Homo sapiens: one gene and its partners. The protein of the gene in region 6 purifies or fractionates together with the protein of the main gene of each other region. This does not show direct contact. Each region holds a gene or a part of one and is shown on either strand. Other genes may lie near its edges. The genes, in order: DROSHA, ARHGEF2, LONP2, KLHL21, SERPINE2 and TBC1D3G.

Region 1 (3,500 bases), on a different chromosome or scaffold from region 6:
TACCAGAAGTATAGTGTGATACAACAATCACGAAATAAACCTGAAGCACATCATCGTTAATCACCAAGGAATGGAGTTTGATACAGACCTCCCTCTGTGCCAGCTTCTGTTTGTCAGTTTGTTTGACTTTGGGACTATTTGCTAGGAGGTGGCGAAGTTTCACATAACTCTTCCACAGTTTTTGGTACCTAAGGAAAAGGACAGGCAAACATCTCAGGTAAAGAGGAGGTAAACCTAAAATGCAACAAAACCAGTTATTTTAAGAGGCCTCTTCAAATCATACATTACATTCTTTTGATTATTCTTAATGGCAGAAAGCCATCATTCTAAGGAAGGCTATGACTTTGAGGCTGAGAGTCAGGATGGACAAGAGTCAACTGGAACCTGGTGATTAAGTTGATTATTGCTTATTTCAGTTGGAAATGAGGTGTGACTATATGAATGAATCTCTGGAAAGAATTCCAAAGACACAAAAACACCTCAACCAAAGGAATCATCCTGTTTCTCACTGTTACCTCTTGAAAATAACAGATTTTATTTAAATATACACTTTCTGATATTTGTTGAAAGAAAGACCCCTTCCTTAGGGAGACTGTCAGTTGCTGAACTACTTATACCAAATATAAGTTGAAGAGTATTAGAATAGAGAACCCCATTTGTGCCAAAACCCAAGCTACATAGCTGTATCCATTTGTCCACTGGAGAGGATAAAAGACTAATGGTGTATACCAATTTGTATTTACCATGACAATATAAGCATATTTGTTGCAGCCAAATAAGTGATAACCTAGACCAGTCTAAAGGATACTGTCAAAGCGTCCTGGAAATGAAGCGAATATGCAGTCCTTTATCAATTCACAGTCCTGCCATCTGAGAGTCCACGAGAGCCTCATCACATTCTACTAACATTTTTCTGACAAGAAGGGATTTTCCAAAGATTTTCTGTCACATTAAAACTGTTCCTTTCTTGGCCTTAGCTGGGCCTCTCCTTTTTTGAAAACTTTTTTTTTTTTTTTTAAGAGAATGGAGGAAAGAAAGAAGTACTTACACAGTGCCTGGTTCACTGCTTCATACTTTTATCCAAAGGGGGAAAAAAAAGAACAAAACCCTTTAGCCTCTTCTAATATATGTCAGCCAGAACTGTATTTATGAATTGAAAATCTCCCATGCCCTTTTCTCCCACTATGAATCCTTTTTAAAAAAAAAAAAAAAATAAGTCAGGAAGCTGTTTGTGTGTTTAGCAAGGTAGGAAATCCAAACAGTCCCGAAGAATCTAATGGTACTATCTCCATTCCCACACATCCTAAATCTTCTCCCAGAAAACACTAACATGCCAGTTGGAAAAATCAAAACGTGGAAAGTTACATCAATCCTAAGAGTCAGAAGTCACGGCTCCTACTTCCAACACAACCTTGACTTTGCATGTGATCTTGAACTCTTAAGATGCCCCCAAAAAGAGAACTCTGCATAAATTCGGCAGTGCTAGGAACCAATATGTGCTACTTTCCTCTAGAGGGCACTGAAAAAATAAAAAATAATAATTATTATTATAAGGATGAATAAAGAAAAAGTTCCTTAAAGTTTAAAAACATACAAGGACTTATGTTGACCAAGTTTGCCAAAAATATTCTATTGAATAATAGTTTCTTGCACTCAAATATGTACAGAAAATAATTCTTCAGGAGCTACCACAATTGTTTCATTTGGGTAATCTAAATTGGAAGTATGGCTCATTTCAGGTCTTAATTTTTAAAAAGGAAACATCCACTAAAGGGTATTTCTCTGCTAATTTGGCTGTTAGTAGAAGGTGAAATTGGCTAAGACAAACACTGAGAAATATCTTACTGTGGGTCTCCTGCATAACTCAACTGTGCAGGGCGTATCCCAAAGTGGACGATAATCGGAAAAGTAATCACATCGGGGTTGAACTGTTCACGATCCAGTTGATCGATACGGACAGAGCTTGGTTTCTAGAGAGAAAAATCAAAGCCATTTATTCCCATAAGAAGTCTTTATGTATTGACTTTAACCTAAGTAGGGAAGGAATAAATCGGACTTTTTTCCAGGAAAGCCTTGTCCCCAAAGGGAAAAGGTCATTTAAAACCCTTTAATTACAGCAGCTATACTATCTAAAAACTATAATGTCATCCTTGTAAATGAGCCTATGCCATTTGGCATAATGAACAATGATTTTGTCCTTTTTTGCAGTCCACATAGAAACCTTTAAAAATTAAACTTTTAAAAGGACACCTAGTCAGATATAACTTTTCCTTAACCTCTCTGAAGGCACAGGGGAAGGATTCCACATCACAGGCAGAGCCTCTTCTGCTTTAATTTCACATTTCAGAATGCACAGATGCCTCTATTTAAGTTTTTTCCCTCACTTGTTCTCAGTGGATCTTATGTATTCCTTTAATTCTACATCTTTAAGTTAGAAAGTATAGTGGTGCAAAGGCCAAATAGTTAAGCTTCTTTTATTATGTCCATGTAGGACATTTGTGTATTTTAACAGAGAGCCTCATATTTTTTTCTTCATGTCTAATAAAGGAAGAAGTGAATGGCTCATTCCTTCTGGATCATTTGTGAAATGGCTTTCATCTTGAAAGCTTAAATTTATGAAAAGATGGTAAAATCACAGAGAACAGGTTTCAGCAACCTCCTTCCTTATAATCACCTCTCAGGACAGTCTCAATTAGAGATTCAGTTTTCACTAGCACACTGTAGAGTCTGCGGCTCAGTTGCTTTGGAGGCTAAGGCTGTTAAAACTGATTCACACAGAGGCCAATAATCTTCATTCTGTCCCACAACAATGCCCAACAATTAGAGTCTGGTTGGCTGCCTGGTTTCCCTGGGACAGAGGAATTTCAATGCTAAAACCAGGAAATCTCTCAGCAACTGGGACAAACTGGTCACTCTACCTACAACTGTGATACCAGCCAGCCATCTGACAAATATTCAATGAGGTGACAAAAGGGATAAACTTGGGTGAATTCACCCACATTACTTAAAACACTCAAACCTTTGGGAGGCCAAGGCGGGTGGATCACGAGGTCAGGAGTTCGAGACCAGCCTGGCCAACATAGTGAAACCCCATCTCTACTAAAAATACAAAAATTAGCCGGGCGTGGTGGCGCACACCTGTAGTCCCAGCTACTCAGGGGGCTGAGGCAGGAGAATCACTTGAACCCGGGAGGCGGAGGTTGTAGTGAGCTGAGATCGCACCACTGTGCTCCAGCCTGGGCAACAGAGTGAGACTCTGTCTCAAAAAACAAAACAAAACAAAAAAAAAACCCCTCAAACTTTTTAAGTGTCATTTAACAAACAAAATGTCACTAGCTTCTTGAAAAGTTGGTCTCTGCTCTCAAAATTTGAAAATGGAAAATATTTTGTTCACATGTAATCCATTATAAAATTATTTAAATGCCCATCAACAGTAGCAACGTGCTATTTAAGGTCAAAGAATTACTTTCATTATTTTGTACAACAAAACAGCAGGATAC
Region 2 (3,500 bases), on a different chromosome or scaffold from region 6:
CCGTTCTTCACCTAGCCGCCGGCAGCGCCGTAGCTCCTCCTGCAGCAGCGCATGTTGCCGCTGCAGTAATGCCAGTTCCGTGGCCTGCTTTTCAGGGGCCACAGGGGCAGCCCCAGCCCTGCCAGCCTCCCCATCCCGAGAGTTGGCTCGGCACAGCTTCTCCCGCCGCTCAGGGCCCTCAGGGAACCGGGCTTCCATCAGAGTGTCCTGCTGGGCCACAGCTGCCTGGGAGTAGAATGCAGGCAGAAGGGTTTATCAGAACCCCTGTGCTCTTCTACCCCTCGCCTTCACCCTCCAAGGCCCAGATCATCGCTCCTGGAGAGCTTGGATTGGGAGGGTATTTAGAAAGGCCTGTTGGGATGACCATGCCCCACCTAAACAGGCATCTCTAGCCTGGCTCCTCCCCTTCCCCATTCAAGCCCTTGTCCTACTGACCTGTAGGCCATGTAGAAGTCCATAGAGATTGACCAATCGCTGTAACGCCTCCTGAGGACAGACAGGGTGGGAACAGGGCCCCAGCTTTAGGATGGGAGAACTGCCCAAAAGTTGAACAAGGGTGGGTGTGGGGACAGTAGGATCCGGAGACATACTTGAATGTAGACGCTTTCCCCACCCCACTCCAAACTGGGCTCTAACTACTCAGACTAAGAACATCCTCCCTTCAGTCTCCTATACCATCAATTCCCATCTCACCTCTTGCGGTGATCTCAGCTGATTTCCATTTCGATCCTGCAGAAATGGGCAAGAATGGGGAGTCAGCAGGCACACAAATCCTGGGTGCCTGCCCCTGACAGCTTTGTGTTGAGGATCCAGAGGCTGGCTGTCCCTCTCCCACCCTCTTGCCAAGTCCCAGAACCTCTTGAGGACCTACCCTCTGGCTAGAGTCTGAGTCAGCTCTGCAGAGTTCAATGGAGCCATTGAAGGTTCTGGCCTCACCATCTGTTGAGAAGGAGAAAAGGATGGCTGAGCTCACTTCCCTGGGGCCCTGATACCACTTGATCCCTGGTACCACTCTACTAACTTTGGCCCCTCCCACCTACTACCTTGGTCCCCTGCCCTGGTACTCACTGGCAGTGACCCCAGGACTCGTGTTACCACCGCTGTCTGGTTCCAAGGGCAGGGCTGGCTCTCGGGGTGTCAAGAGCAGTTCCACTCCTGGCCCCACCAGCAGGTCTTTCAGACCCTCCACTGTGGGGAAAGAGGAAGAGGTGAGAACAGGAATGACACAGGACCCTGAGGGGAATGCCATTCACCCCCACATGTGGGACACTTGGGCATCTGGGGGAATGCCCCCTGCACTGGCAGTGGGGTTTCACTCACACAACCACTGATGAGGTAAAGGGCAGTAAATGCCTACGAGGCAGCAGAGTCCATGCAGCATGGACGATATGGAGCAGCAGCAAGGACCACACCTCCTCCCCTGCCTTTCCCAGGAACTGGCCCAGAAGAGGCACTCAGGGCCGTTTATGGTTTATAGGGTTGGCATCCCACTTGTCTGTGTTTGTCCATGTCTAGTCACATGTCCACATTCTGTGACGGTGAGTGCTTGAGCCTGGACTCTTCCCTGGGAGCTCCCTCACCCTCACGGATGGCATCCTGCAGCAGCCGCTCGCCACGAGGGGACTCAAGGGACTCAGAGCGGAAAAGGCCCCTGGGCAGGGTGGGCAGGGCCATCCCACTGCCACCATCCTCTTCGGCCTGGAAATGGGTCATCTCAGCAAACAGCCCGACCTTCTCTCGCAGCAGCTCCACCAGTGCCCGGTCCTTCTGCTGCAACTCCACTGCAGATAAGGAACAAGTGAGGACATGAGAGGACGTAGGGGTATGCAAGAGCGCCAGTAGAGGACAGCCCTAGGGGAGAGGGGTAGGGTGGGGCAGTGTGGCAGACTTAATTTTGTTATTTTGGCATTTATAAAAAAGAAAAAGCTTTCTGTTGGTCAGGTGTAGTGGCTCACACCTGTAATCCCAGCACTTTGGGAGGCCAAGGCAGGTGGATCGCTTGAGGCCAGGAGTTCAAGACCAGCCTGGCTAACATGGCAAAACCCTGTCTCTACTTAAAATACAAAAATTAGCCAGGTGTGGTGGCACGCGCCTGTAGTCCCAGCTACTCAGGAGGCTGAGGCACAAGAATCGCTTGAACCCAGGAGGCAGAGGTTGCAGTGAGGCCGAGATCACACCACTGCACTCCAGCCTGGGCGACACAGCAAGACTCTGTCTCAAAAAAAAAAAAAAAAGATTTGTGGAAGGGGTTGCAGGTTGTCCAACAGTGTTCATTCTTTCCATCTTCCTTTAATGAGAAAATGCATAGAAGTTTCATCTGGGCACACATGGCTGCCCAGTTAACAACTATGTTTTCCAGCCTGACTTGCACGTGACTATATTGCTACATGACTACATTCTGGCCAATGGATATGAGCATCTTCCAGATCTGCTCTTAAAAGAAATGGGTATAGGCTGGGCATGGCAGGTGGATCACTTGAGGCCAGGAGTTCGAGACCAGCCTGGCCAACATGGTGAAACCCTATCTCTACTAAAAATACAAAAATTAGCCAGGAGTGGTGGTGGATGCCTGTAATCCCAGCTCCTTGGGAGGCTGAGGCAGGAGAATCACTTGAACGTGGGAGATGGAGGTTGCAGTGAGTCGAGATCACGCCACGCCACTGCACTCCACCCTGGGCGACAGAGCAAGACCCTGTCTCAAAAAAAAAAAAAAAAAAAAGAAAGAAAGAAAAAGAAAAAAGGGTATAAACTCTATTCCTTTACTCCTCCTTGCTAGGTGTGATACAGGTGTGACAGTGGGAGCTGGAGTAGCCACTTCAGACATGACATAGAGATGAAAACTTCATGTTAAAGATGGCAGAGCTGCACCACTACTCTGCACTTCCCACTTTGAACTGTTATGTTGACAGCAATAATATTCTACCTTGTTGGGGTTTTTTTTGTTGTTGTTGTTACCCAGACTGGAGTGCAGTGGTGCAATTATAGTGTATTACAGCCTTGAACTCCTGGGCTCAAACAATCCGCCCACCTCAGCCTCCCGAGTAGCCAGGACTACAGGTGTGTACCATCATGCCTAGCTATTTTTTTTTTTTTAATTTTTTGTAGAGACAGGGTCTTGCTATGTATGTTTTGTTGCCCAGACTGGTCTCGAACTCCTGACCTCAAGAGATCCTCCTGTCTCCCAAATCCTTCTGGGATTAAAGGCGTGAGCCACTGCATCCAGCCAATCTACTTCTTTTTTTTTTTTTTTTTTTGAGATGGAGTCTCCCTCTGTTGCCCAGGCTGGAGTGCAGTGGCGTGATCTCAGCTCACTGCAAGCTCCGCCTCCCAGGTTCATGCCATTCTCCTACCTCACTCTCCTGAGTAGCTGGGACTACAGGCACCCGCCACCACCCCCGACTAATTTTTTTTTTGTATTTTTTAGTAGAGACGGGGTTTCACCGTGTTAGCCAGGATGGTCTCAATCTCCTGACCTCGTGATCCGCCCACCTCGGCCTCCC
Region 3 (4,232 bases), on a different chromosome or scaffold from region 6:
ACTAGATGGTCTGATGAGTTCTTATAATGCCGGACTTCTATGAAGACTTTTCAATATATGTTTTCTAATTTAAATGATTAAATTTTAACATTGCTACTCAGTTAAAGGCAATAATATGAACATCAAGGATCAGATCACACAGTACCTGATTATTAGTGATTACTTTCAAGCAGGAGAATTGAGGATTGTTGCTTTGGAGGGATTTTCATAAAATAAATTAAAAACCTGAAGGGTATGGTGGCGCTTGCCTATAGTCCCAGCTACTCCAGAGGCCAAAGCAGGGGATAGCTTGAGTCCAGGAGTTTGAGACCAGCCTAAGCAACATAGTGAGACCCCATTTCTACAAAAAATTTAAAAATTAGCTGGGTGTAGTGGTGCACGCCTATAGTCCCAGCCACTCCAGAAGCTGAGGCAGGACGATCACTTGAGCCCAGGAGTTCAATCAAGGTTGCGGTGGGCTACGATCACGCCACTGCACTTCAGCGGAGGAGACAGAATGAGACTCTGTCTCAAAAAATACACAAATGAATAAATAATAAAAACCTTCCAAAATCTTGCCAGAATAATACCAACAAATAGTGAAACTTAAAATGTGACTAAATCGACTTTTCAAGTTCACAATGTGCCCATGGCTAATCAATACATATGCACAGTAGAAAGAAAATGAAGTCTAATAATGACCACTCTTGCCTAGACAGGGAACTAAGTGTGCCTGGGCACAGAAGGCAAAATAATTTGGGAAAAGTAAGCAGAAGGAGCAGAGTCGTATGTTGGGAAACTAGAATCCAATACAATTTATCAAAGAGTACTGAAACTTGGAATGTGACCAATTCCACTCAGGCAATAACCAAAGCAGGTCAGATGGGAGCCAAAATATTTTCCATGCTTGAGAAAATCAAGGCTTTTACAATATAAATGAATACTGGGCTGCTGTGGAAGGTTTGTTGGTCTTTGTTGCTTTGTTTTGCTTTCTTTTAACGGGGGTGGGGGGAGGTACCAGTCTCCTTTGAGAATCTGAAGAAAGCAAAGGATTCTCCTAAAAAAATGTACATAGTCACAAGATTTTGAGGAAAAATAAGACATGTCCAACCCTCCGGAAATCCATTCAGAGTCAGGAACCCCTAATTTAAAAATAAGGGATAACTGCCAGGAAAGGAGAAGCTCTAAACTGAAAACACAACACCTCCAGTAGAGTTAGGAATAGGAGGCGGGTGCTTGGCAGGTGAGTTTGAAGATACTTGTTGAGAGCATACGATATACCAGCATTGTCCAATAAAAATATAATGTGGACCACATATAAAATTTTAGTGGCCACATTATAAAGTAAAAACAGCAGAAATCTTAACATTTTATTAACCCCAAGTACTCAAAATATTACCTTTCCAACATTTAATCCATATAAAATGTATTAATCAAAAAGTTTTTTCAAAATCTGGCGTGTATTGTACACTTACAGCACATTTAGGGTGACCAACCTCCTGGTTTCCCTGGGACGGAGGGGCTAAAACATAGGACTTTCAATGCTAAAACAGACAATCGCAGCAAACCAGGACAACTGGCAATTCTATCATCTCAATTTGACGAGCCACATGCACTACACAGTACTGGACAGCAAAGTCATCCATCATGCATGGTGCAAAGTGGAATATACACATTATTCAATTTATTCTTCATAACTTGCCTAAGAGATGGATGCTGTCAGTTTCCAAATTGCAGAATAAAAGAAATAGAGGTTAAAGCTCTCACCCAAAGTCACACCAATAGGGCGAGGGTACTGGGCAATATAGTAGTAAGCCTGGGGCCTAAGAAATGTTATGAGTGAAGGAGCAGAGGTGAGAAGCTAGGAAAGTTCCAGAAAGGGGGACCAGCGAAAATGTGAGCAGTAAAGGCCCTTTACAAAGGGAAACAGAAGGATTAGGGGGAGAAGGAGAAGGGTGGCAGGGAGTATAGAAGAAAGGCACCCACAAATAGTGCAGTTTAGGAATGAAACAGGAAAAGTTAAAACTCACGGAGCAGAGAATGCCTCAGCGGACAAAAATGATGGGTGACAGAAAAGGGGAGGCGGATAGGAGTAAAGGGCAGTGGGGAGAAAGGTGAAAAGCGAAGGCAAGTGAAGGCAGAGATCACCGGGGAGAAAGAAAGGGCCTGGAAAGTTAAAAGCACTGGCCTAGGAGGCTGAAGACCGAGGGCGAGGAATTGCGGAGAGGGGGAAGAGGATTCAAATTAAATTATCCAGAACGGTAGGGAACTGCGTAGTTTCACCAGGTGTCAGGCACTACTTCATGAACGATCTCATTCATGGTCATGGGGCAGGTATCTGACATCCCCATTTTGCAAGTGATAGCACCAGAGAGGCGGAACCGAGCCGCGAAGGCCGCCCCGAACTGAGCCTCGCGCTCAAGGCAGGCCGTGGCCTGGGCCCAGGTCCCCGGAGGAGGCCGCGCCGCCCGCCGCCGCCGCGGGGGCAGCCAGGCCTACCTGTGCAGCGGCGGCAGGTCCTGCGCGTCGCTGGCGGGGTCAGGCGTGTTGGGGATGACGCCCAGGATGGTGCTTTGCAGCGACGTGCCCTTCAGAAGGCGGCTCCGCACCAGCTGCAGGTTGCGGGCCGAGTCCACGCTGGTGCGCATGGTGGAGCCGGGCAGCAGGACGCCCTCGTGGGTGAGCAGCAGCGGGAGGCGACTGGGGATCTGGATGGGGCTCACTGATGACATGCTGGCAGCCTTTCGCACTGGGGGCTGTCAAAAAGAGCCAGACAGACAGCTGCCCCCGGCCTGCCCCGCAGTCACCAAACCTCAGACCCGCCTCCACGCCTCCGCTTCCGGCTACGCGCTACGGTCCGTCCCCGGGCCCAAAAGCCATGGCTTCGCGCTGCTCTCTAGGAGAGCCTCCCGGTAAGACTTGAGCGTCCTACCTATGCGGAAAGACGTGCACTCAAGCGTGCAGCGACCTTCGCCTCACTTACAGAGTATATTTGGAAGGATGATCTTATTTGAATTGTATATACTTGAAGTGTTTTTAACGTTTTCTTCGATTTTTTACATATACTTGAAGTGTTTTTAACTTTTGATTCGAACTAATTATTTATTTATTTATTTATTTATTTATTCTGAGACAGATTCTCGCTCTGTCGCGGAGGCTGGAGTGCAATGGCGCGATACCCACGGCTTGCAGCCTCTGCCTCCCGGGTTCAAGCGATTCTCCTGCCTCAGCCTCCCGAGTAGCTGGGATTACAGATGCCCGCCACCACACCCAGCTAATTGTTGTATTTTTAGTAGGGAGGGGATTTCACCATGTTGGCCAGGCTGGTCTTTAACTCCTGACCTCAAGCGATCCGTCCACCTCGGCCTCCCAAAGTGCTGGGATTACAGGCGTGAGCCAACGTGCCCGGCCCGAATTGATTTTAGATGTACAAAACTACAGCAGAGTTCCTATATACCTTTCACCCAGTTTCGTCTGTTATCATCTTACATAATCATAGTTCAATGATCAAAACCAGGAAATTAACATTATTATCGTTTAACCTATAGGCCTTACCCAAATTTTGCCAGTTTTCCCACTAATGTCCTTCATTGGATCTGGTCCAGGATCCAATATCCAGGATCCTGTTGTGAAATCTCCTAGGTGTTTTGTTATGAAATCTCCTAGGTGTTCTCTAATCTGTGGCAAGTCCTCAATTTTTTTTTTTTTTTTTTTTTTTTGAGACGGAGTCTCGCTCTGTCACCCAGGCTGGAGTGTAGTGGCGAGATCTCGGCTCACTGCAAGCTCCGCCTCCCGGGTTCATGCCATTCTCCTGCTTCAGCCTCCCGAGTAGCTGGGGACTACAGGCACCCGCAACCACGCCCGGCTAATTTTTTGTATTTTTAGTAGAGACGGGGTTTCGCCATGTTAGCCAGGATGGTCTCAATCTCCTGACCTCGTGATCTGCCCGCCTTGGCCTCCCAAAAGTGCTGGGATTACAGGCCTGAGCCACTGCGCCCGTCCAATTTTTTTTTTTTTTACAACCTTGATACTTTTATTTTTTTTCTGTTTTTAATTTAATTTTATTTTTTATTATAGTTTAAGTTCTAGGGTACATGTGCACAACGTACAGGTTTGTTACATATGTATACATGTGCCATGTTGGTTTGCTGCACTCACTAACTCGTCATTTACATTAGGTATATCTCCTAATGGTATCCCTTCCCCCCCACTCCCCACCACCCAACGACAGGCCCCTGAGTGTGATGTTCCCC
Region 4 (3,500 bases), on a different chromosome or scaffold from region 6:
ACAGTGAGCCAAGAGCGTGCTATTGCACTCCAGCCTGGGAGGCATAGTGAGTGAGACTTCGTCTCAAAAACAAAAAAAAGAAACAAAGATACTACAAGACAAACAACAGTAGTTGTGAACCTGACACGGCAGCACAAAACCAGCCACAGACAATGCATAGACACGAGCCTGGCTGTGTGCCAAGAAAACTATCCATGGACAGACATTTACATCTCGTCTAACTTGAAATGTTATTCCTGATTTTTTGCCCCCAATCATTTCAAAATGTCAAAGTCACCCTCAGTTTGTGGGCCCTGTGGTGGTGGTGATGATGATGATGATTACACCCTGGAACCTGCTAGGCTGCCCTGTCTTTCCCCAGCAGAGACTTGCAAACCACAGCCCAGAGGCTGGACAGAGCTCGCCGGCATTCCCAGAGGGGGCTACTGCACCCCAGCCAAGGAGGCATTTTGTACCAGAACCAAGGGGAGGGAGGCCCAGGTCATTTGTGGGTCACATGGACAACGGCTGAGGCTGTGGCCTCCCTGAGAATGGCACGTCCTAGGCACAAGCTGCCCAAAGACAGGTGGTGTTCTGGGCAGAGGGTTATGTGGCTCTTGAAGAGCCAAAGTGCGCAGACAAAGTGACACCGGGACAAATAGCCCAGGGGGACCAGCCCCAAGCAGGGCCCCTGCATGCTTAGCCTTCTCTTTAGGGCTCAAGCAGCTTCCACTCAGGCTGAGCCTGGGCGCCCCTCCTCTGTGCTCCGGCACAGGTCACACTGGTAAGATGAACGCATGCAGCCTTTCCAGAGCACTGCCTCCTCCCACACGTGCAAGTGGCTTAGGAAACCCCTGGAAAGGTCAGCAGTGGGTGGGGGTGGCGGGGCAGACCCTCATGCTTCCCTATGGGAAGGTTAACCCAGCAGGCAGACCTCCCTGGCGCACATCTTCACATCTTGCTCTAGGACAGATGGGGGAGGGGAGGAGGACTCTCAAAGACACTGGGCCTGGAACCACTGCCTAGGGGCCGAAAGGAAGGTTCTGGCCCTCTGATAAGTTGTATTTATAGCCATCTCCACCCCCTCTTTGAAGACACCTTCACAACTTGGGGGAGGGAGAGCCGGGCAAAGGGTCAGATGATGTTTTATAATGGGACCAGAGCTGGCTGAGATTCCAGGGCTTTCTCAGAGCAAGACCATTGGTTCTGGGCATGTGGTGGTGCCCAGCTACTTGCGTGACAAGCAACGCCACCCCTGTTCTTCTTGGTGCTCACTCCAAAAGCCTGGTAAGGAGCCTCCTGTCTGGGGGGATGGTGGGGCAGATGCCAAGGCCAGGGCAGCTCTGGCAGTGCGAGGCAGGGGGCCAAGGAGCAGGGAGCTCACATCCCCCAAGCTCCCCATTCAAAGCCCCAGCACGAAAGGGCACAGTGGGGACTGTCATTCAGTTCTTCCCCTTCCCTCCTGGACCCAGAGCTTCAGGCAGGCTCTAGGCTGGGAGGGAGCAGCAGGATTATGTGAACAAGCAGCGGAGTACAGCAGGGAGGGGCTGCCCCGTGCCATCATTGATGCCCAGAAACCAGCCGGAGGCAGCATTTGGCTGTGACCAGACAGGTCATCAAGGCCAGCAGACATATGATGACCCGCAGGCTGCCTGTCTCTGCTCCGTGCTGCTCAGCCTACAGCCTACTCTTGCTGGAAGAGCTCAACTCCACCACCTGTGAAATCGCTTAAGAAAGCCTGGGGTTTTCCTTAAACCCAAAGGAATGGAACAAGCACTGTGGGCTCCGAAAGACCAGGCCTGGCTGGGTGTGGGGGCTCACACCTACAATCCCAGCACTCTGGGAGGCAGGAAATGTGAGACGATTGTTTGAAGCTAGGAATTTGAGACCAGCCGGGGCAATACAGCGAGACCCTGTCTCTACAAAAAGTTAAAAAATGAGCCAGGTGTGGTGGCTTGTGCCTATAATCCCAGCACTTTGGGAGGCTGAGGCAGCTGGATCACATGAGGTCAGGAGTTCTAGACCAGCCTGACCAACATGGAGAAACCCTGTCTCTACTAAAAATATAAAAATCAGCCAGGCATGGTGGCACATGCCTGTAATCCCAGCTACTTGGCAGGCTGAGGCAGGAGAATGGCTTGAACTTGGGAGGCAGAGGTTGCAGTGAGCCAAGATCGCGCCACTGTACTCCAGCTTGGGCAACAAAAGCGAAACTCTTCTTTTAAAAAAACAAAACAAAACAAAAAAAAACAGACCGGGTGCAGTGGCTCACGCCCGTAATCCCAGCACTTTGGGAGGCCAAGGCGGACCGATCATGAGGTCAGGAGATCAAGACCATCCTGGCTAACACGGTGAAACCCCGTCTCTACAAAAAATACAAAAAAATTAGCCAGGCATGGTGGTGGGCGCCTGTAGTCCCAGCTACTCTGGAGGCTGAGGCAGGAGAATGGCGTGAACCCGGAAGGTGGAGCTTGCAGTGAGCTGAGATTGCGCCACAGCACTCCAGCCTGGGCGACAGAGCGAGACTCCGTCTCAAAAACAAAACAAAACAAAAACAAAGAGACAGACCCAGCCTCCAACCCCAGCTAGGCCTCAGTTTCTCATCTGTGGAAAAGGGAGAACAGCCATGATGTGTGCTTAAGACAGGGCCTGGTAAGAGACACCAAACACACAGTGGGGCTCGGCACCTGGAACTCACCTGACAAAGTACATGAGTCCGTTTAGAGTCGCAGTCTTGGGGGCGAAGGACCAGGGCGGGAGCTGGCCGCAGTCCACCAGCGACCACAGGTCGGTGTCCGGGTCGTAGCACTGCATCACCATGGTCTCCTTGCCAGCCAGGGAGCCGATGGCATAGAGCCGGCCACGGCACGCAGTGGTGGAGCAGTTGTCCATGGGGTAGGTCATGGGCTGCAGGGCCTCCCAGGAGTCAGTGGTGTGGTCATAGCGCTCGGTGCTGTCGGCGGCCACCACGTACAGCAGTCCGTCCAGCACAGAGGAGCTGTGGTACTCGCGGGCCTTCAGCATGGGCGCCACCTCCGCCCACTCATTCACGCTTGAGTTGTACCTCCACACGCAGTCATAGAGCCGGGAGCCATCGGACCCACCTGCCAGGACGCATGACAGGCAGAAGATCAGCCCACTCAGGTGAGTCACCCACCTGCACCCTCCCGAACTTCCGCAAGGGCCTCTGCCTTGGGAGGAATTAACATCACTGGGCTTCACCCCAGACGCACACCCTCTCCCCAAAAGCCCAGGCCACATGTTGTGGCTAAGGCAAAGCACACGCTGACCACTGTCCAGCGAGATGACTGCTGCCAAGCCTCTACCAAACAAAGGTCCTGAGTGCAATGCTGGAAGAATCCAGCAGCCTCCTCTGGACACCGCCCCCCAGCCATACATACACCTCAGCAGACCAGAGCCCTGGGCCTTGGGACAGTTCTCCTGGGGAGCCACAGAGCTTGTCAGCAGGGCACACAGGGACTTGCTCACTAACTCCTAGGCTTCCTGGGCACCCTCCAAGC
Region 5 (3,500 bases), on a different chromosome or scaffold from region 6:
GCTTCACAAGCACATCTACGATCACAGCGCAACTCAACCCTGGGCGCCATGGAGGCGGTAAGCCAGGAAGTGTCCCCCTCGCTGGAACGAGGGCTGGAGCCCTGGGAAAGGAGACCTAGTGGCAGACCCCAAGCTCCAAAAGTACAAAAAAGGGACCAGAGTCTAGTTCTCCTAACTGCCAGCACCACAGTGTTTGTTCTTTAGAAGAGACTGACCCCAAGCCCCAAGTGGCACCAGCAAATCCCCTTCTGGCTGCTCTGCTTCTTGGGGTTGTCAGCAAAAACCAAGCCATAAACCCTCCTGTCACAAGACTCTCAGGCAAAGGCTCCGCCAGTGAGCAATTGTGCACACGCACCATTTACGCCGTATCTCATCACCATGGCGAGCTGCTTCTTGGTCCTGCCGTCCGCCCCCAGCTGAAGCATCCCCAGGACCGACGCAATCCCATGGGGAGAGATCACGATGTTGTCATGAGGCCTCGACTTCACAATCTGATTGAAAACCTGGATCCCCGTGTTGGAGCCTAGTTCCTCGAGAGACAGAGGATTGAAGTGGGAGCAGATGGAAGGCAGCGTCACAGAGGCCAAGAGGAAGAGGGGGAGATGCCAGTTCATGGTTCCTTCCACCAAGGACGACCTGGAAAAGTAAGTTAAAAAATATTTAAATTATACTTAAATGGGTACTTTACTACTTTTTTTTTTTTTCCCCCAGATAGAGACTCGTTCTTTCACCCAGGCTGGAGTGAAGTGGTGCCATCTCAGCTCACTGCAACCTCCGCCTCCTGGGTTCAAGCAATTCTCCTGCCTCAGCCCCCTGAGTAGCTGGAATTACAGGCGTGTACCACCATACACGGCTAATTTTTGTATTTTTAGTAGAGATGGGATTTCACCATGTTGGCCAGGCTGGTCTCAAACTCCTGACCTCAAGTGATCTGCCTGACTCAGCCTCCCAAAGTGCTGGGATTACAGGTGTGAGCCACTGTACCTGGCCTGCGAGGCCATTTTGTACTCACCTAGTATGCTTGACTGTACTCAGCATAATTGAATGCCATGTGAATATATTTAAGACAGAACAGTGTAATTAAATCAGTTTTCAAAACACACCCTGGGGAGGTGGGGAGGGAAAGGAAGCAAACTTCCATCTCTTGGGTCCTTACAATGTGCCAGGTCCTATACTAATCATTATTTAATTCTCGGTTATTTTATTTTTATTTATTTATTTATTTTGAAACAGTCTCACTCTGCTGCCCAGGCTGGAGTGCAGTGGCGCAATCTCGGCTCACTGCAACCTCCGCCTCCCGGGTTCAAGTGATTCTCACGTCTCAGCTTCCTGAATATGTGGGATTACAAGTGTGCGCCAACTCGTCTGGCAATTTTTTTTTTTTTTTTTTTTTTAGTAGAGATGAGGTTTCACTGTGTTTGCCAGGCTGGTCTCGAATGTCTGGCCTCAAGTGATCCGGCCTCCCAAAATGCTGGGATTACAGGCGTGAGCCACCATGCTCAGCCTAATCATTATTTAATTCTCATAAGTGCCCTTCATCCAATTAAGCCAATATTTACTGAGGGTTCACTGGGTGTCGGACCCTTTTCTAAGTGTTAGGCATATGACATAACTGAATGGACAAGACTCTCACCCGCACTGAGCTTACAATCTAGAAGGGAGACAGAAAATAAGCCAGCAAGCAATAAAGCATTTTCAGAAAAGGATAAAGAGCACAATGATAAAATACAGGGATGCGAGCAGATGAGGGGCCGGCAGGGTGCGGGGGGTGGTCATTAGATAGGGTGATCAGGGAGCCATCTCTATGGCAGGAACATCGTGATGAGACCTGAATGGGGGAAGGAGCCAGCCACACTCTGATGGGTAAACAGTACGCTGGGCAGAGGGAGAGCAGGGCCGAGGCCCTGACGTGGGAATAAACTTGGTGTATTAGAGGCCAGTGTGGATGTGAAATCAAGGTCGTAAAGAAGGGAGACAGGTGGGTGAAGCCGAAGGAGAGTTCAGATCTGGTAAGGTCCTGTAGAGCCTGGAAAGGCACTGGGATTTCACTCCAAGGGTTACAAGAAACCCCTGGAGGATTTCAAACAAGGGAGTGAATCCCTCGGGTTGCTCTGATTATCTTATAACCACAAGCGCTTGATTCTTTTACCATAAGCACACTGCTTTTAAAATTAAAGAATTATTAATTAAAATAAACTTAAGTGACTGCTTTAAAGTTACAATAGGGTAGGACAATTGGTAAATTCATCAATTTTGAGGATGGTGTTGCTTACACGGATGTTCTCAACTACAGTGATTTGTTTTAAAGAAGCTTCCTTCCTTAATTACCACTCACAGAGCTTTCTCTGGCTATGACAAGTAAGAGGTAGGAAATTTACATGTATTTATGGAAAAGCAAATACTTTCATTAAGTAAGAACTTAACAGTGGCAGCTGGTAAAACAAAAGCAGCATTCGTGATGTTGCTAATTCAGTTCTTCCCCAAGAGGCCCAAGCTCCTGCTAAGCACAGTCTCCCGTGGAGCCAATGTGTCCCACTCTGTTGTTACGTGTGGGAGGTTAGGGGTGACTGCAGAGAATAAAACAGAAGGGGGCCTTTTAAGAGACAGGTGACCTGGAGGGAGGGGGAAATCATGTCTCTGTGTGCTCTGGGGGAAAGCATGGGCACAACCACAGTGTTAGGCAAAACTGGCCCCGTATTTGGTGTCTCCTTGCCTTCCTTTCTACACACTTTCTGTGCTTCCCACCCTAGGGCGTAGGAGATGTTCAATAAACACTTGTGAGATTAATCCGATGGCTCATAAATACTTCCTATTTTTATTAATTAATCTTTCCCTGCATCACAACAGCGTTTATGGAGTGTGGCTAAGAAAACGCTTGTGTTTAATCCTGATCCTCACGGTCAGCTCAAGACACTCTCTGAGGGAAGAGCCACCATCACATCGAGCAAGGACTGTGGGCACACGCAGAACTCCCTGCCTGGCCCCCCGACACAGAGGGCCCCACTGTGAACCACTGAGGCCATCCTTCCAGCTGATGTTGCAAGTTTCTTATATGTTGTGAAACAAGCGCTTTTCTAAAGATTTAGAATGTTCCGTGTTTCTCCAGAGCTTCATTGTAAAACAATTGTATCAACTCAGCCCGTCTAAATTCAAAACATGTAAGTGACCTACATACGCTGCTCCCGCTTGGGCTCAACGGGCCAGCGTGGCCTATTTTGACTTTGGCACCTAGGACTGGCTCTAATGCCACGACAATCCCTGGAGTTTCCTGGAGCCTACTGGACTTTGGAGAGCGTCCAAATCATGACCGTGGAAGCTTTATTCATTCCATCTAAAAACTAGAAACTGTGTTCTCCCCTTCCTTCCTCCCTCTTGCCTTTTCTTTCTTTTGAGCAATAAATATCCTCTTTAAAATTTAATATAGCACAAAGTCATCATAAGTATAAAACATTGTGTACAATCTTTCTTACAAATGGCCAAATGCAGTGACCAACTTCATC
Region 6 (3,500 bases):
GTCCTCCCAGGTGACCTCAGCCCTCCCAGGTGATGTCCTTCCATGGTGACTCTGGCTCTTGCAGGAGGTGGGCTACTGCAGGGACCTGAGCCACATCGCCGCCTTGTTCCTCCTCTATCTTCCTGAGGAGGATGCATTCTGGGCACTGGTGCAGCTGCTGGCCAGTGAGAGGCACTCCCTGCAGGGTAAGTGAACAGCTGCCCCGGGGACCTCCTGCAGCCAGACCTGGGGATGGCCACCCTGGCCAGGTGATCACAGCTTTCAGCCAAGGCACCCTCCTTGTGTCGCCAGCTTGTTGGGAGACTTTAGGATGTCTCTGCTGAGGGTCCCACAGGAGTCCACGGCTGACCCCCAAAGCCCAAATCAGACGCCTGTCATCCCCATCAGCAGAGGGCATCTCATCCTCCCCGTGGCCACCCTCTGTGTCCTGGAGCCACGCCCTCCGGCTCTGATTCTGTGCAGCTGACTCTCCCCTCCCTGAGAGTCCTCCTGCCCTCCAGCTGCCCGGGCTCCTGCTGCCATCGGTGCCCACGAATGGGCCGACCAAGCCCAGGTGGCAGCATCTCCCCATCCCCTGTTCCCTGGCCCGACCCCACTACCAGGAGATGACCGGGAAGCCCAGCGCCCACCCAGTTCCGGCCACCCTGTCGTGGCCTGAAAGTCAGGCTTGCCCTTTTTGCACCCTGGCCCAGGAGGCCTCCAGGGGAACCTCCAGCCAGGCTCCAGGGAATGTTCCCGCCCCACCTCCCCAGGGTAAAGGCCGCATGTTGGGGTCACCAGATGGGAGGGTGGGAGGCCTTGGGGTTTGGGGGCCTCTCCAGCTGCCCAGCTCTTGCAGCTGATGGCTCCACATCTTGGGGGAAGGCTCTGATTTCATGATGGGCTGGGGGCTTCTCAGGATTTCACAGCCCAAATGGCGGGACCGTCCAGGGGCTCCAAGACCAACAGGAGCATGTGGTAGCCACGTCACAACCCAAGACCATGGGGCATCAGGTGAGTTTATGGTCCCCTCAGCTCTTCCCAGAGGCCCTGCCTCCCGTGGGGCTGTAGGAGCAGGGGGGCTGGAGCCCCTCGTGGGGCTGGTGACTGGCTGAGTCCCAGCCAGGGCCTGACCTGGGACGTCGGGTTCTCCATGGGCTGGGAGTTGGTTTCCTTTCCTGCCCTGGAGGAGACAGAGGCACAGGGATGGGGGCCCAGCTCCCACAGAGCAGGGCAAAGGGCAGTGTGTCCACCGGGAGTGTGGGAAGGTGACAGTGTTGTGGGGAGCTCTGGACACCGCCCAGTGTTCTGCACTAGGGGAAGGGTCTTCAGAGGCCCTGGAAGAGGGAGGTTTTTAGGGCAGCCCAGTGGCCTGAGCACCTCTGTTGCTTCCATCAGGACAAGAAAGATCTATGTGGGCAGTGTTCCCCGTTAGGCTGCCTCATCCGGATATTGATTGACGGGGTAAGGAGGCATAGGGAGACCCTGGCTCAGGGACCTTCCTTGCCCTGCAGTGCCCTGCTTCCCCAGCCCGGGGGTCTGGCTCACTCCCAGCCCACAGGAGGCTCAGGCGGGTCCCCAAAGGACACACAAGCAAAACCCTCTGCCCAAGGGGGGTCATCCCAGGGCCATGGCTGGGGCTCAGGCCCAGCCTCATGGGCAGACTGGGCCAGGACCCGACTTGAGAGGGCTCAGGGAAGCCTCAAGCCCTGGGCAAGCCCCTCTCTCCAGGAGCCACATCCCCACTCAAATGAGTGCCCCCCATGAGGAGCTTCAAGACCTTGTCTGACCCAGCGTCCTGGAGGGCTCAGGCGACCCTCATGGGGAAGGTCACTGACTCTGGAGACTGAAGCCCCAGTGTGCGCAGCTCGAGCCACCAGCCCCAGCCTGGAAGGACCAGGTTCTTTCACACCTGCTGTCCCCACAGATCTCTCTCGGGCTCACCCTGCGCCTGTGGGACGTGTATCTGGTAGAAGGCGAACAGGCGTTGATGCCGATAACAAGAATCGCCTTTAAGGTTCAGCAGAGTAAGTCTACGTGTGCCCAGCGGGGCCTGGGGAGCCCTGGGGTCAGACCCCGACTGGCCCGAGGGCAGCTTCCTCACACTGTCCTCATGATCCGCTGTTCTGGCCCAGAGGGAGGTCTGGCCAGGTGGGCTGGGCAGGACACTGTGACACTGAGCCCATCCCCCACATGACCCAGATGAAAGTCGAGAGTGTGGTGAGCACTTCCCTGTCCGGATCGCCCCCCAGCCACAGTCTCCTGTGTATATCTGGACACCTGGGGTGGCCACAAAAGGATCCGGCACCGCCCAGTAGGAGACTGAAGTGGCCACGGGATATGAGCTGTGACCATTCCCAGGTAACTCCCCTGGCCTGATATCCACCCTGTCCCTAGAGCGCCTCACGAAGACGTCCAGGTGTGGCCCGTGGGCACGTTTTTGCAACCGGTTCGTTGATACCTGGGCCAGGGATGAGGACACTGTGCTCAAGCATCTTAGGGCCTCTATGAAGAAACTAACAAGAAAGCAGGGGGACCTGCCACCCCCAGGTGGGCTCCAGTGCCATGTCCCCTCCCATGTCACCCTCTGGGGTAGTCAGTAGTAGGGGAGTGCCCGGGACCCGCAACCCTACTACCTGGGCCTTCCTCTTCACCTTTTCTTCCTCCTCTTCCTCCTGGACTCTAAGAAAGTACAGGAGGCCCACCGGTCCTCAGGGCAGGCGCTCAGTGCGTGTATACTGGACATGCTGTGCATGCAGGAGGGGGATGTGGGCAAGACCCTCCAACAAGCCCCCTCCCACTTTCCACGGTGTCTCCCTCTCCCCCTCGCAGGGCCCTCCAAGTTACTAGACGAGCCCAGACCCATTTGTGGGAGACCCCGCCCCTCCCTGCAAGCACCCACAGCCTCAGAGAGCAGCAGAGGCCCCTCACTCCTGCACGCTCCTCCAAGGTTGCCAGGACAAGAAGCCTGGAGCCAGGGAGACAAGGGAATCCGTGTCCCTGACCCACAGAGCATTCAGGGAGAGGGCCCAGAGCCAGAGCCAAGAGTTCAGCCAGAAGTGGGAACGGTCAGTCCTGGCATGGACTGGGCAGCCCAGGAGGGCAGAGGGTGACCCACGTCCGGGCCCAATCACCCACTGCGGAGACGGGTCCCCACGTGAGGTGACAAGGGGCTGGGTGACATCCAAGGCCCCTCCCACCTGAGTTCTGACTGGGGGCCGTATCCCAGGCCCAACAGCCCTGGGACGAAGGTGTGTGGCAGGAAGCCCCCAGCCAGTCTGAACCCTGGGGGCAGTCCCAGGAGCCACCCGCCATGCCACGACAGCTTCCCCACGCCAGGCAGCATGCACCCCTCCCTCTGGGATCAGCAGACTACAGGCGTGTCCTCGGTGTCAGGCCACGGGGGCCACACAGAGACCCCGAGGACTCCAGAGACGCAGGCAGGTGGGGCCCAGCCCGGAAAGGCCTGCGTGGGCTCACTGGAGATGCTGACCGCGTCTGTTTTCCTTTCAGCCAAACCC

The links.
Region 1: the proteins of TBC1D3G (region 6) and DROSHA purify together in Homo sapiens (co-immunoprecipitation; one large-scale study listed by IntAct). This does not show direct contact.
Region 2: the proteins of TBC1D3G (region 6) and ARHGEF2 purify together in Homo sapiens (co-immunoprecipitation; one large-scale study listed by IntAct). This does not show direct contact.
Region 3: the proteins of TBC1D3G (region 6) and LONP2 purify together in Homo sapiens (co-immunoprecipitation; one large-scale study listed by IntAct). This does not show direct contact.
Region 4: the proteins of TBC1D3G (region 6) and KLHL21 purify together in Homo sapiens (co-immunoprecipitation; one large-scale study listed by IntAct). This does not show direct contact.
Region 5: the proteins of TBC1D3G (region 6) and SERPINE2 purify together in Homo sapiens (co-immunoprecipitation; one large-scale study listed by IntAct). This does not show direct contact.

Annotation. Positions count from the first base shown.
Region 1 is NC_000005.10:31,466,094-31,469,593, forward strand, and holds part of DROSHA (ribonuclease 3), read right to left. Parts: intron 1,971-3,500; coding exon 1,846-1,970; intron 189-1,845; coding exon 89-188; intron 1-88. UniProt on the Homo sapiens protein: Ribonuclease III double-stranded (ds) RNA-specific endoribonuclease that is involved in the initial step of microRNA (miRNA) biogenesis.
Region 2 is NC_000001.11:155,951,048-155,954,547, forward strand, and holds part of ARHGEF2 (rho guanine nucleotide exchange factor 2), read right to left. Parts: intron 1,782-3,500; coding exon 1,581-1,781; intron 1,189-1,580; coding exon 1,069-1,188; intron 940-1,068; coding exon 872-939; intron 730-871; coding exon 694-729; intron 487-693; coding exon 436-486; intron 290-435; exon of another isoform or gene 226-289; coding exon 1-225. UniProt on the Homo sapiens protein: Activates Rho-GTPases by promoting the exchange of GDP for GTP.
Region 3 is NC_000016.10:48,242,868-48,247,099, reverse strand, and holds the start of LONP2 (lon protease homolog 2, peroxisomal), read right to left. Parts: upstream 2,801-4,232; 5' UTR 2,712-2,800; coding exon 2,479-2,711; intron 2,241-2,478; exon of another isoform or gene 2,097-2,240; intron 1-2,096. UniProt on the Homo sapiens protein: ATP-dependent serine protease that mediates the selective degradation of misfolded and unassembled polypeptides in the peroxisomal matrix.
Region 4 is NC_000001.11:6,596,370-6,599,869, forward strand, and holds part of KLHL21 (kelch-like protein 21), read right to left. Parts: intron 3,084-3,500; coding exon 2,678-3,083; intron 1-2,677. UniProt on the Homo sapiens protein: Substrate-specific adapter of a BCR (BTB-CUL3-RBX1) E3 ubiquitin-protein ligase complex required for efficient chromosome alignment and cytokinesis.
Region 5 is NC_000002.12:224,001,287-224,004,786, forward strand, and holds part of SERPINE2 (glia-derived nexin isoform b precursor), read right to left. Parts: intron 637-3,500; coding exon of another isoform or gene 615-636; coding exon 356-614; intron 1-355. UniProt on the Homo sapiens protein: Serine protease inhibitor with activity toward thrombin, trypsin, and urokinase. Promotes neurite extension by inhibiting thrombin. Binds heparin.
Region 6 is NC_000017.11:36,330,384-36,333,883, forward strand, and holds part of TBC1D3G (TBC1 domain family member 3G), read left to right. Parts: intron 1-64; coding exon 65-185; intron 186-898; coding exon 899-993; intron 994-1,377; coding exon 1,378-1,443; intron 1,444-1,906; coding exon 1,907-2,006; intron 2,007-2,376; coding exon 2,377-2,529; intron 2,530-3,492; coding exon 3,493-3,500. UniProt on the Homo sapiens protein: Acts as a GTPase activating protein for RAB5. Does not act on RAB4 or RAB11.